Linked DNA regions of Homo sapiens. The protein of the gene in region 3 purifies or fractionates together with the protein of the main gene of each other region. This does not show direct contact. Each region holds a gene or a part of one and is shown on either strand. Other genes may lie near its edges. The genes, in order: UPB1, PYGB and DCPH1.

What was found.
Region 1: the proteins of DCPH1 (region 3) and UPB1 fractionate together in Homo sapiens (co-fractionation; one large-scale study listed by BioGRID). This does not show direct contact.
Region 2: the proteins of DCPH1 (region 3) and PYGB fractionate together in Homo sapiens (co-fractionation; one large-scale study listed by BioGRID). This does not show direct contact.

The regions. Positions count from the first base shown.
Region 1 is NC_000022.11:24,526,206-24,528,919, forward strand, and holds the end of UPB1 (beta-ureidopropionase), read left to right. Parts: 3' UTR 1-2,185; downstream 2,186-2,714. UniProt on the Homo sapiens protein: Catalyzes a late step in pyrimidine degradation. Converts N-carbamoyl-beta-alanine (3-ureidopropanoate) into beta-alanine, ammonia and carbon dioxide.
Region 2 is NC_000020.11:25,271,972-25,275,626, reverse strand, and holds part of PYGB (glycogen phosphorylase, brain form), read right to left. Parts: intron 1,036-3,655; coding exon 904-1,035; intron 1-903. UniProt on the Homo sapiens protein: Glycogen phosphorylase that regulates glycogen mobilization. Phosphorylase is an important allosteric enzyme in carbohydrate metabolism. Enzymes from different sources differ in their regulatory mechanisms and in their natural substrates.
Region 3 is NC_000006.12:151,462,316-151,465,970, reverse strand, and holds part of DCPH1 (damage-control phosphatase ARMT1), read right to left. Parts: intron 1,519-3,655; coding exon 1,353-1,518; intron 1-1,352. UniProt on the Homo sapiens protein: Metal-dependent phosphatase that shows phosphatase activity against several substrates, including fructose-1-phosphate and fructose-6-phosphate.

The DNA.
Region 1 (2,714 bases), on a different chromosome or scaffold from region 3:
GCTGTGGTGGGTCGGATGGTCTTTGGATGTGTCAGCTTAGCTAGGCCACAGTCACCAGTAATTCAATCAGACACTAATCTAGGTATTTCTGTGAAGGTATTTTGTAGATGTGACAGAAGTCCATTCCCAATTGACTAAGTAAGTGAGATTATCTCAGATAATCTGGGTCAGCCTGACCTGATTAGTCAGAAGGCCTAAAGAACAGAGCTAAGGGTTTCCCTGAGGAAGAAATTCTGCCTGAGGACAGCAGCCCAGTGCTTGGCGAGAGTTCCTGACAGTCTGCCCTTCTGATAGCCTGCCTCACAGAGTTTAGACATGACTAGCCAGCTCCTACAATCACTGAAGTCAATTCCTTGCAATAAATCTCAATATATCCCCTACTGGTTCTGCTTCTCTAGTTGAATCTGACTGATACAGATTTTGGTGCCAAAAGTGGTTCTAGAAAAATAGAATCTTAAAGATGAGTTTTCTGCATTGGTTCTGGATTTTTTTAGAATTCTTCCCTAGTTTGATTGAACTTAAAGGCATCAATGACTCTATTTCCATAGAGTCAGGGTAAAGAGGGTAGTTGGTAGTCCATGGCATGGTGCAGCAATAGTTATTTATGTGCGAGACTAGCCATCAGCCATCAGTTTGTGCCCAGAGTTCCAGCCTGCCCTTTCTGATGGCTTGTCCTGTGGATATCAGACTTGCCTGACCAGATTCCATCATCATAGAAGGTAATTTGTTGCACTAAATCCTTTTATATCTCTATCCATCACCTACTAATTCTGCTAGTTCTGCTAATGTGGTTGAGCTCCATTTTACACATCAGATTACTCACTTCTCTACACCTTGGTTTTTACATCTGTAAAATGGGACTGGGCCAGGTGTGGTGGGGTGGCTTATGCCTGTGATCCCAGCACTTTGGGAAGCCAAGGCAGGTGGATCACTTGAGGTCAGGAGTTCAAGACCAGCCTGGCCAACACGGCGAAACCCCGTCTCTACTAAAAATACAAAAATTAGCTGGGCATGGTGGCGCATGCCTATAATCCCAGCTACTCAGCAGGCTGAGGTATGAGAATTGCTTGAATCTGGGAGGCAAAGGCTGCAGTGAGCTGAGATCACGCCACTGTGCTCCAGCCTGGACAACAGAGTGAGAGCCTATCTCCAAAAAAAAAAAGGGGTGGGGACCATATTCCTGCTTTATGTCAAGACACTGGTAAGAGACAGACTAGATGGGCCAGGGAGCCCCTTGGCAGTTATCAGTGCAGCGCCTATTTAGCCCTGTCCCTGAACAACACGGCAAGAGCCCAACCTGCCAAGTCTCAAATAGCAGTTAACCAGAGTATCGGGTTGGAGGTGGGGTTGAGATTCTGTAATTCCCCGCTTATTGTTCCCAATCAGAGAAGGCAGCCAGAGAAGGCAGCTTCATCCCTTCACTGGCCCAGCAGCTGAACTATATGGAAACCTCCATGTCAGGGCTAGGGTACTCCTGGACAGCCACCAAGGATGAGAAACCCTGATGGAGCTGCCTGGCCACAGCTCTGCGGTAACTTCCTTGAACTCTCTGTGCTGCAGGTTTTCACTTTACCTAATGGCCCTTCTTGCACCTTTAAAAAAAAAAAAAAAAAATTCCAGTCCTACAGACACAGTGAGCTTTTTTGCCTGTTCCTTTAGCTTTCAAAATTTAGTGTCAGCCAAGGCGGGCAGATCACAAGGTCAAGAGATGGAAACCATCCTGGCCAACATGGTGAAACCCCATCTCTACTAAAAATACAAAAATTAGCTGGGTATGGTGGCGCACGCCTGTAGTCCCAGGTACTCAGCAGGCTGAGGGAGGAGAATCACTTGAACCCGGGAGGCGGAGGTTGCAGTGAGCCGAGATCACACCACTGCACTCCAGCTTGGCGACAGAGTGAGACTCCGTCTCAAAAAACAAAACAAAACAAAACACCTTAGTGTTTTTGGTTTCTAGAGGGTGTAATCAACCTAATACAGAAGCCAGCTTAGGTGACAAATTGGTACATTTGTGAAACAGGCATGAATAAATGGACCACAACTCTTTGATTATCTGCAACTCTCATTGCCTGGAAACAGAACAGTCAGGCCCATCTTAGAGTATGCAGGCCCTGTACAGCCAAGGTCATTTCAAGGTTTAACTCATCCCTGGAACATGCAGATGCTCAGTAAACATTTGAATGAATCTGTGGTGGAGGTTTTTGCTTCCTGGTGATCATTGCTGATGCTACAGGGCAGTCTCTCAGACAAGAAATTGCAGTGGTTCAGTGTACATGGCCTGCAGGCCTGTGGGCCCCTGTGCAATCTTGGATGAAGCCTTCTGACCCCTCAGTTTTCTCACCGGTAAGATAACAGGTGGCTGGGCTCAAGAATTTCTCCCTAGAAATTCTCAGTTCTGGAAGGCCACCTTCCTGCCAGGCTATAGCTTTATTGCCGGAATCTGGGGTGGAGTAGGTGAACTTCAGTGTGCCCAAAAGAAAAAAAGGAGGCTGTGCACAGTGGCTCACATCTGTAATCCCAGCACTTTGGGAGGCTGAGACAGGGGGATCACTTGAGCTCAGGAGTTGAAGACCAGCCTGGACAACATAGACCTTGTCTCTATAAAATTTAAAAAAAATTAATAGGAAAAAAAGGGCTAAGGCATTATTAAATATAAACCAGACCACGTATTAGACCACAAAAAATTCCCAGTAAACTTAAAGATTAAAATCATA
Region 2 (3,655 bases), on a different chromosome or scaffold from region 3:
TTAAATACAACTTTTCAGGGCATTTTCAGCCTCCATGGCATGGCCCCAGCCACTCGAAGCCCATGTATTTGATTTAAAACTGTGTCCTACAAAGTCAAGACAACTCCCTCTGCACACCAGTGACCACCCAGCCTCCAGGCTCTCCTGTTATTGCCCGTCCTTCTCCATCACAGGTGGCTGAGTCTCACCGATGCCCCCACGTTCTCCTGCAGCCTCTCCTGCCAGCCCCTGCCCTGCCCCAGTCATCCCGGCTTACAGCTGCCCGGAGCCTGGACTGGGTGCTCCCTCACGTGGCCTCTGCGTGCCTGGCACCCGTCGCTGCCGAGCACTCTAGGCTCTTGCCCTGATTCCCCATCAGCACCCTGCTGGGCAGGAGGGCCTGGCCCCATCCCCGGATGTCACCCAGGCCTCGCACACACTCCAGGGGCTCTGACAGTTGACGCTTTGAGAGCCATGGGCCACGTATGGCGCCAGGAGGCCAAGCGAGCTTGTCGTGTGCTCCACAGAGATAGTGGGAGCTGTTTTCGCCCACCCTGGGGGTCCGTGCCCCCATCCCATCAGAACACCCTCCTGCCTGCCCTTAAGCAGCGGGGTTCTCGTGAGCATCTGGCTGTGAGTGGACGCCCAGCTGCATTCTTAGCCCCAACACACAGCTCCTGCCCAGCGGGGCTTCCCCCATGGAGTCTCGCTGCTGTGCTCAGCGCTTCCACTGTTTGGGAAGCTCCCATCAAAGTGTAAGAGACTGGGGAGTGAGGAGAATAAACCTCCCCCGGCTTTTACCTTAAGTCCTCCAGGGAGGCAGCAAGCCCCCCAAGCCAAAAGAAGCTGAGCTGTCTACAAATGAGCCGCAGCAGCCCCCTCACCTGGCTCCAGCCTTGCCCGCAGACATTTCAGCCCAGGTACCTGTGTGTCCAGCCACTTCACGCCGTCGGGGGTGTGCTCCACGCGTCCGTAGAAGTGCACGGGAAGCATATACTCAGGCCGCGCTTTCTCCCAGGGGTTGCCGTAGCGCAGCCAGTCATCGGCCTCCTCTACCTGGAAAGAAGCCAGCTGTGAGGGCACCCTCAGCGCAGATGTCCCAGGCCACCGCCCTGTCCTGGACCCAGCAGACCGTGCGGTCGAGATCACACAGTGCCTGGCACTGAAATTTACCTACAGCCACTTACCAGGTCGGGATTCCCACTTCTGGCGAAGCCCACGTGGGTAAAATGAACACAGTGGACACTAAAGTAACAAACTCAAAATTTAGAAACACGTGCCCAAAAAGAAAGACACTAAGAACCACTGACTGACACATGCTCCGATCTGGATGGAGCTTGAAAAACCTACACTCAGTGAAAGAGGACAGACAAAAATACCACGCATCACACGAGGCTATTTACAGGAAAATGTTCAGAACAAGCACCTGCACAGAGACAGAAAGCGGGTGAGAGGCTGTCAGGGGCTGGGTGTGACTGCAAATTGGTGCAGGGCTTCTTTCTGGAGGGATGAAAATGTTCTCAAGATAGACAGTGGGGACGGTTATCCAACTCTGAATATACTGAAATCGACTCTCTATTTCAATAAAGCTGTTATAGAAGAATCACTAGAAGACATTGCTTTGACGGGGACACACTGGCCAGGCGGAGGCTCACGCCTACAGTCCCAGCACTCTGGGAAGCCAGGGTGGGAGGATCGCTTCAGCCCACAAGGTCGAAGCTGCAGTGAGCTATGACTGTACCACTGCACTCCAGCCTGGGCGACAGGGCAGGACCTATCTCTAAAAAAAAATTATTAAATTAAAATTAAAAAAGAAAGAAAGTGACACTGCAAATCCGCAAGTGCTGGGGCCAAGTTGGCAGCTGGCAGTGAGGACGCCCTGGATGCACCCAGGAAGACAAGCTGTTCCGGGAGGGCTTCCAAGAAGAAGCTTATTCCCAGAATCTGTGCCCAGTGGCACTAGAGACGAGTAACTACATGAAACCAACCCCCACACTAAAAGCGGCCCTGCAGATTCGAGCCACCCTTGCACAGAAGCACTAGGGGGCTGCTTTACCACCACGTGACAGAGTAACTCCATCTGGTACAGCAGCAAGGGCGGATTCTGAAGTCTCAATTACTAAAACTGAAATGAGATCAAGTCTCTTCTCTTCAGAATGAACAGGCAGCCCTAGTATGCTACACTGAGGGATTTCCTCTTCATGGTTCCTACACAGACGCCAAGAGTCACGAGCAAGACTGTCTGGGCTGTGCTCTTCCGGAGGCCCCTCCGCACAGCAGGCCCCTCCGCACAGCAGGCACCTCCCCATGGTACTCCCAGCAAGACCCTTCTGGTGGCGTCTCCTTGTCCGCTGTGAGATTCCCCAACACCAGGGCCTGGCCATCTGCAGAGTTAGTCCAGGAGTCGTCGGCAGAAGCAACAGCTTCCCACATACAAAGGCAGCCTGAGTCTCCCTTGCAGGGCCTCCCTGCCCCCTTGGCCAGGGTGCCAAGCAGGCTGGCCTGCGGCCCCTCTGGCCACATGCTGCTGGCCAACCCTGCCTGTATTTACTTCTTCCATGGCTAAAGCCAACTAAAAACCCACTGAATCTGAACAGTTCCCATGAAAAGGGGATGGGAGGAGGGGTGAGCTTCACTTACTGATCATCCTAAACTATCACACAAAGTTGCAAGAGTTACAGGAACGAGGACCACCAGAAGGAAAAATGTCTCCCTGGTAAAACAAAAACCACCACCAATACCTTCCTGCTGGAAACCCTAACACCAGCTAGGCGAAGGGGAGCCTCTGAGCTTCTGCCTTATAAACCCACACGTGACATGGGGACTGCTGGGGGCCAGAATGAATCAGAGCATCAACATGTGCATGGACTGGACTGCCCTGGAGCTCAGGCACGCGGAGGGCTGGGGCAGAGCTGTCCGGAGGCAGTGGAGAAAGGCGCCTTTCTAAGGTTGCAGAGGGCATCTCCACAAATCAAGCAATGGATCCGAGTCCGTTTTAGGTTACTTTTAGCCATTTCTTTTCTTTACCAACATTTTATTATGAGCGTTTTCAAACATGCAGAAACATTATGCACCCACACCTAGGTGCTGTAAATGGTCTGTTGTTTCTCCGTCCACCAATCCATTGATTTTGGGGTGCATTTAAAGCAAGCTGCAGATATGAGTCCACATTCCCACTAAACGCATCGCTGTGCGTGTCATGGACAGCAGCTCCTTGCGTTTATGTTTTGGGTTAATTTCTCCATGGTGAGATACATGAGTCTTACAGACGCCATGGACGAGCCCTGGAGGCTGCACCTGCCGTTGAGGCCCAACCCCCCTTGCCACTCCCACCCCAAGGATATCTCTACTACCCGTCATGCACACATTCATTGGGGTTGTACATTCTGATGCTACAAATCTTTTGATTCTAATCCCAGACCAGCTTTATTTGTGACTTTTAGGCCCCAAATGATATTAAATAAACCATTTTCTAACCGAATGGAATAGTGGTGACTTTCATTCTGAGGCACATGGGAAGGGAGCTGCTCGCCAGGGAGGAGGAGGTTGCATTTTAAGACCACGCCCTCCTCCCGGCCATGGTCTCAACCATCTCACTTAGCTGTAGTGTGAGGCTTCAAGATCGAGGCTCACTCCTTCCAAGGGCCACTGTACTATGCAGAGTCCAGCCTCTAAC
Region 3 (3,655 bases):
CTACAACCTGGGCAACAGAGCGAGACTCTGTCTCAAAAAACAAAACAATGTCCTGACAATTTTTGTTTTGAACTCAAAATATGCCTTTATTTGTGACTTTGCTTGCCCTCGGGGTCTCACCAGGGCTTCGTCTCCAGGTATAATCTGTTAGCAAGTTCTGTAGCTTCTATGTTCAAAGAACACCCAGGCTCTGGTGATGTCACTAACTCTTATGCTACCAACTTGGCCCCAACCTCCCTCCCCAAGTCATTTTCAGACCAGCTCTCCCCATTTCCACCTTCAGCCCCTGCAGTCTATTCTCAGAAACATTCCTTGAAATAGTCAAATAGCATTACCTCTCTGTTCAAAACCCTCTGATGGCTTCTGTTTCACTTTTAGTAAAAATTTATTTAATACAAGCCGTTCTGTGTCCCTTCCACCCCGCTACCTCTCAGTAACTACAGGGTTTCCTTGCAATTTTTCTCACCTCTCCATGTACTCCGCAGACATACACCTGACTTACTCCTTCCCTGCCTTCAGGTCTGTGGCCTCAGCCTCCATGGACCCTTCCCTGGCAGCCCTGATCCCTTCTCCAACATTCCCAACGCCCTTTTCCTGCTTTATTTCTCTTCATAGCACTTTCTAACATTTCTTTTTGAAAGTCTTCCTCACTTTTTCTGGAAAATGTGAGGGCTGGGGATACTGCTGTGTACCACGTCTCCTAATAGTTCTGATTCTAATAATGTGTTGTAAATTTCAGGATGTTTGCATGAATTAAAAACTAAACTGAATACAAGATAAAGAAATGTAATGAAACTGTATTAATGGGCCAACTGAATACCCGAGTATTATCACCTACCGATGCTAACAGCAGGCTGTATCCCAGGCTCTGTGCTCAGCACTTCACATGCAAGCATCTAGTTGAATTCTCACATCAAATTACACAGTACACATTATCCTCACTGAACAGAGGAGGAAACTGAGGCCCAGAGAAATTAAGTGACAGGCCTCAGGTCCAAACACAAATTAGCCACAGAGCCAACACACACCCAAGTCAGCTGGGAGACCAAATTACTATTAAGAATTCTTTCAAGCATGACAAAAGCTAAGCAAATTACTATGAAGTATTCTCTCAAGTATGACAGAAGCTAGGAAGTCAGATAACTTCTTTGCCACTAAAATCATAGCCAGTGAGAGCAGAAAAATATTTCAAACCCATTTCTAGCAATTAAATGGATTTTCATCTTTTAACACCACTAGATAAAAAATCATCAATTATAGCAAAGAAAAATATTTACATGTTTTGTTAACTGTATAGCAGTTTATTTTCTGTTTAAATAAAACATACTCAGAAGATTAATGATCACATTTACCTGCAGAAGTTTAAAAAACTCATCTTTCAGCTGATTTTCATCTAGGTCTTCAATAGTTCTTATCAATTGTTGCAGGTGAGTACATAAAGCAATGATGGATTCCTGTGACCCATAGAAATTTTGCTCTTTTGATTCTTTAAATACATCAAAGTAATCGATTGGTGGACTAAAGTAGGAGAAAAACAAAGTGAAACATTTTAGTTTGTACATTTGGATAACTGCAGTTCTTGAAAGAAAATAGCACCATACAGTCTCAATAATCAGTGCTAACAGAAACTAGATATAACATTTATCTAATTAACTAGAAAAACTTAATACTAAATAATCAAATTACACAAAAATCTCTCAAACTCATTTTAATTGTCAAAAAAGTTCCCAAATCAAGTATTTTTCTGGACATATTAAATAGTGATAGTGACTATGCTCATAATTATCTACCTAGCAGGGATTCCAGGGCACAAGAAGGAGAAAGATAAATTTCAAGACAACTGCTTTAGTTCAACAAACATTTTTTAACCACCGATGTGGCAGAGTTCCAGTAACAAATGTATAGAATATAAACAGAATATTTGAATACAATGCAGCAATCATTAACAGAATGAAACACAGAGTATGATGGAAATACAATGAGTACTTAAGATAAATCAGACAATACTATTGTAAGTTTTAGAAGAATGATAATTTTTTATCACTAATTTTAGGTATTTTTGGGCAACTTTAACCAAAGGTGATATATGTGGCATGGCTACACCTTCATGTTTTCCAGTGAGAGATTAAATCATATTATATTGGCCTAAGAAAATCATAACTAAGGAGATATAAATACTAATATAATAATCTTTACTGAATTGAATATAAAAGACATTCAGATTATTGGGTCTTCCAAATTAGCTACTTTTTCCATGGGTCATTCATGTTAGGGTAAAAACAATCTAACACTGATGTAATCGGCTTGATTTGTTTTGTTTTGTTTTTTTAAATAACATACCAGTATTTAAACATCCAAATGATGGCTGCCTCCTTCCAGCCAGTCAGTCACCTCGGGAAGCTACACCCTTATTCCAAGGGCGCTGCCATTGCTCAGAGCACTTTTGGAATTCCTCTTTAGGAATTTTCTTCAGAACCTATGGCACATCATTAAACCTCCTGTCAGTGATCACATATCTTCATCCTTTGGAGTCAATTTATTTTTGGAAACAGCCAAAAGTCACTCGGAGTGATTTCAGTAGAATGAGGTGTGTGATCAAATTGGATAAAAACTTTTTTTTTAATCAAAAATGAGTAAAAATACAGGAAGACTAATTTTCATTTTGAGGCATGTAAACTGGCTCTGAAAGAAGTTCCAAATAATTCAAAGATGGTTTTAGCAATGGCAGCACCGCTGAAATCAGTCAGTCTCTCAAGGTGACTTAAAAGGATAAAAATCATTCGGATGCACAGACCCAATCCGGCCCACCACCTGTTCTGTCTGACTCACATGCTAAGAGTGGTTTTTATATTTTTGAATGGCTGAAAACAAAGTGAAAGAAAAGTAGTATTTTGTAACACATGAAATTCAAATTTCGGTGTCCGCTGAATAAAGTTTCTTTAGAACACAGCCATGCTCATTCTTACATATTATTTAAGGTTGCATTCACACGACAATGGCAGGTTCGGCAGCTGCAACAGAGACCACATGGCCCCTATGCCTAAAAGATTTACTACCTGGCCCTTTACAGAAAGTTCTAATAAAACATGTTCTAATGTTTTATTAACAAACCATTCATTAAAGTCACATCTCATATTAAGAATGAGCCTTATTTTCGTATTTAAGAGAGTAAACTCACATAACTATATATAAATTCTCATTTTAGAATGTTTTCTATTTTAGAATCTACTAAAGCTGTGTATGTACACACACTATGACCCAGTGATTCACTTCTAGGGAGGGATATATCCAACAGATGTATTCATACATATGTTCAGCAAAAAAGTGTCAGAATGTTTATAGCAGCATTCTTCCTAACAACTCCAAACTGAAAAGTACTCAAATATCCATCACAACGAAGTAAACAGATTGTAATATGCTCATAAAATGCAATATTATAAAGCAATGAGAATGAATGATCTATAATTATATTGTAACATATGGATGAGTCTCACAAACATAAAAATGAGTGAAAGAAGCCAGACACAAAACTATACACTGTATCATTTCATTTCAGTAAAGTTAAAAAACAGGCAAAACTAACACAGGTCAGAACAATGGTTATCCTTGAGGAGTAATGAAGGCAGTGACTGGAAAGGGACTCAAAGTGGACTTT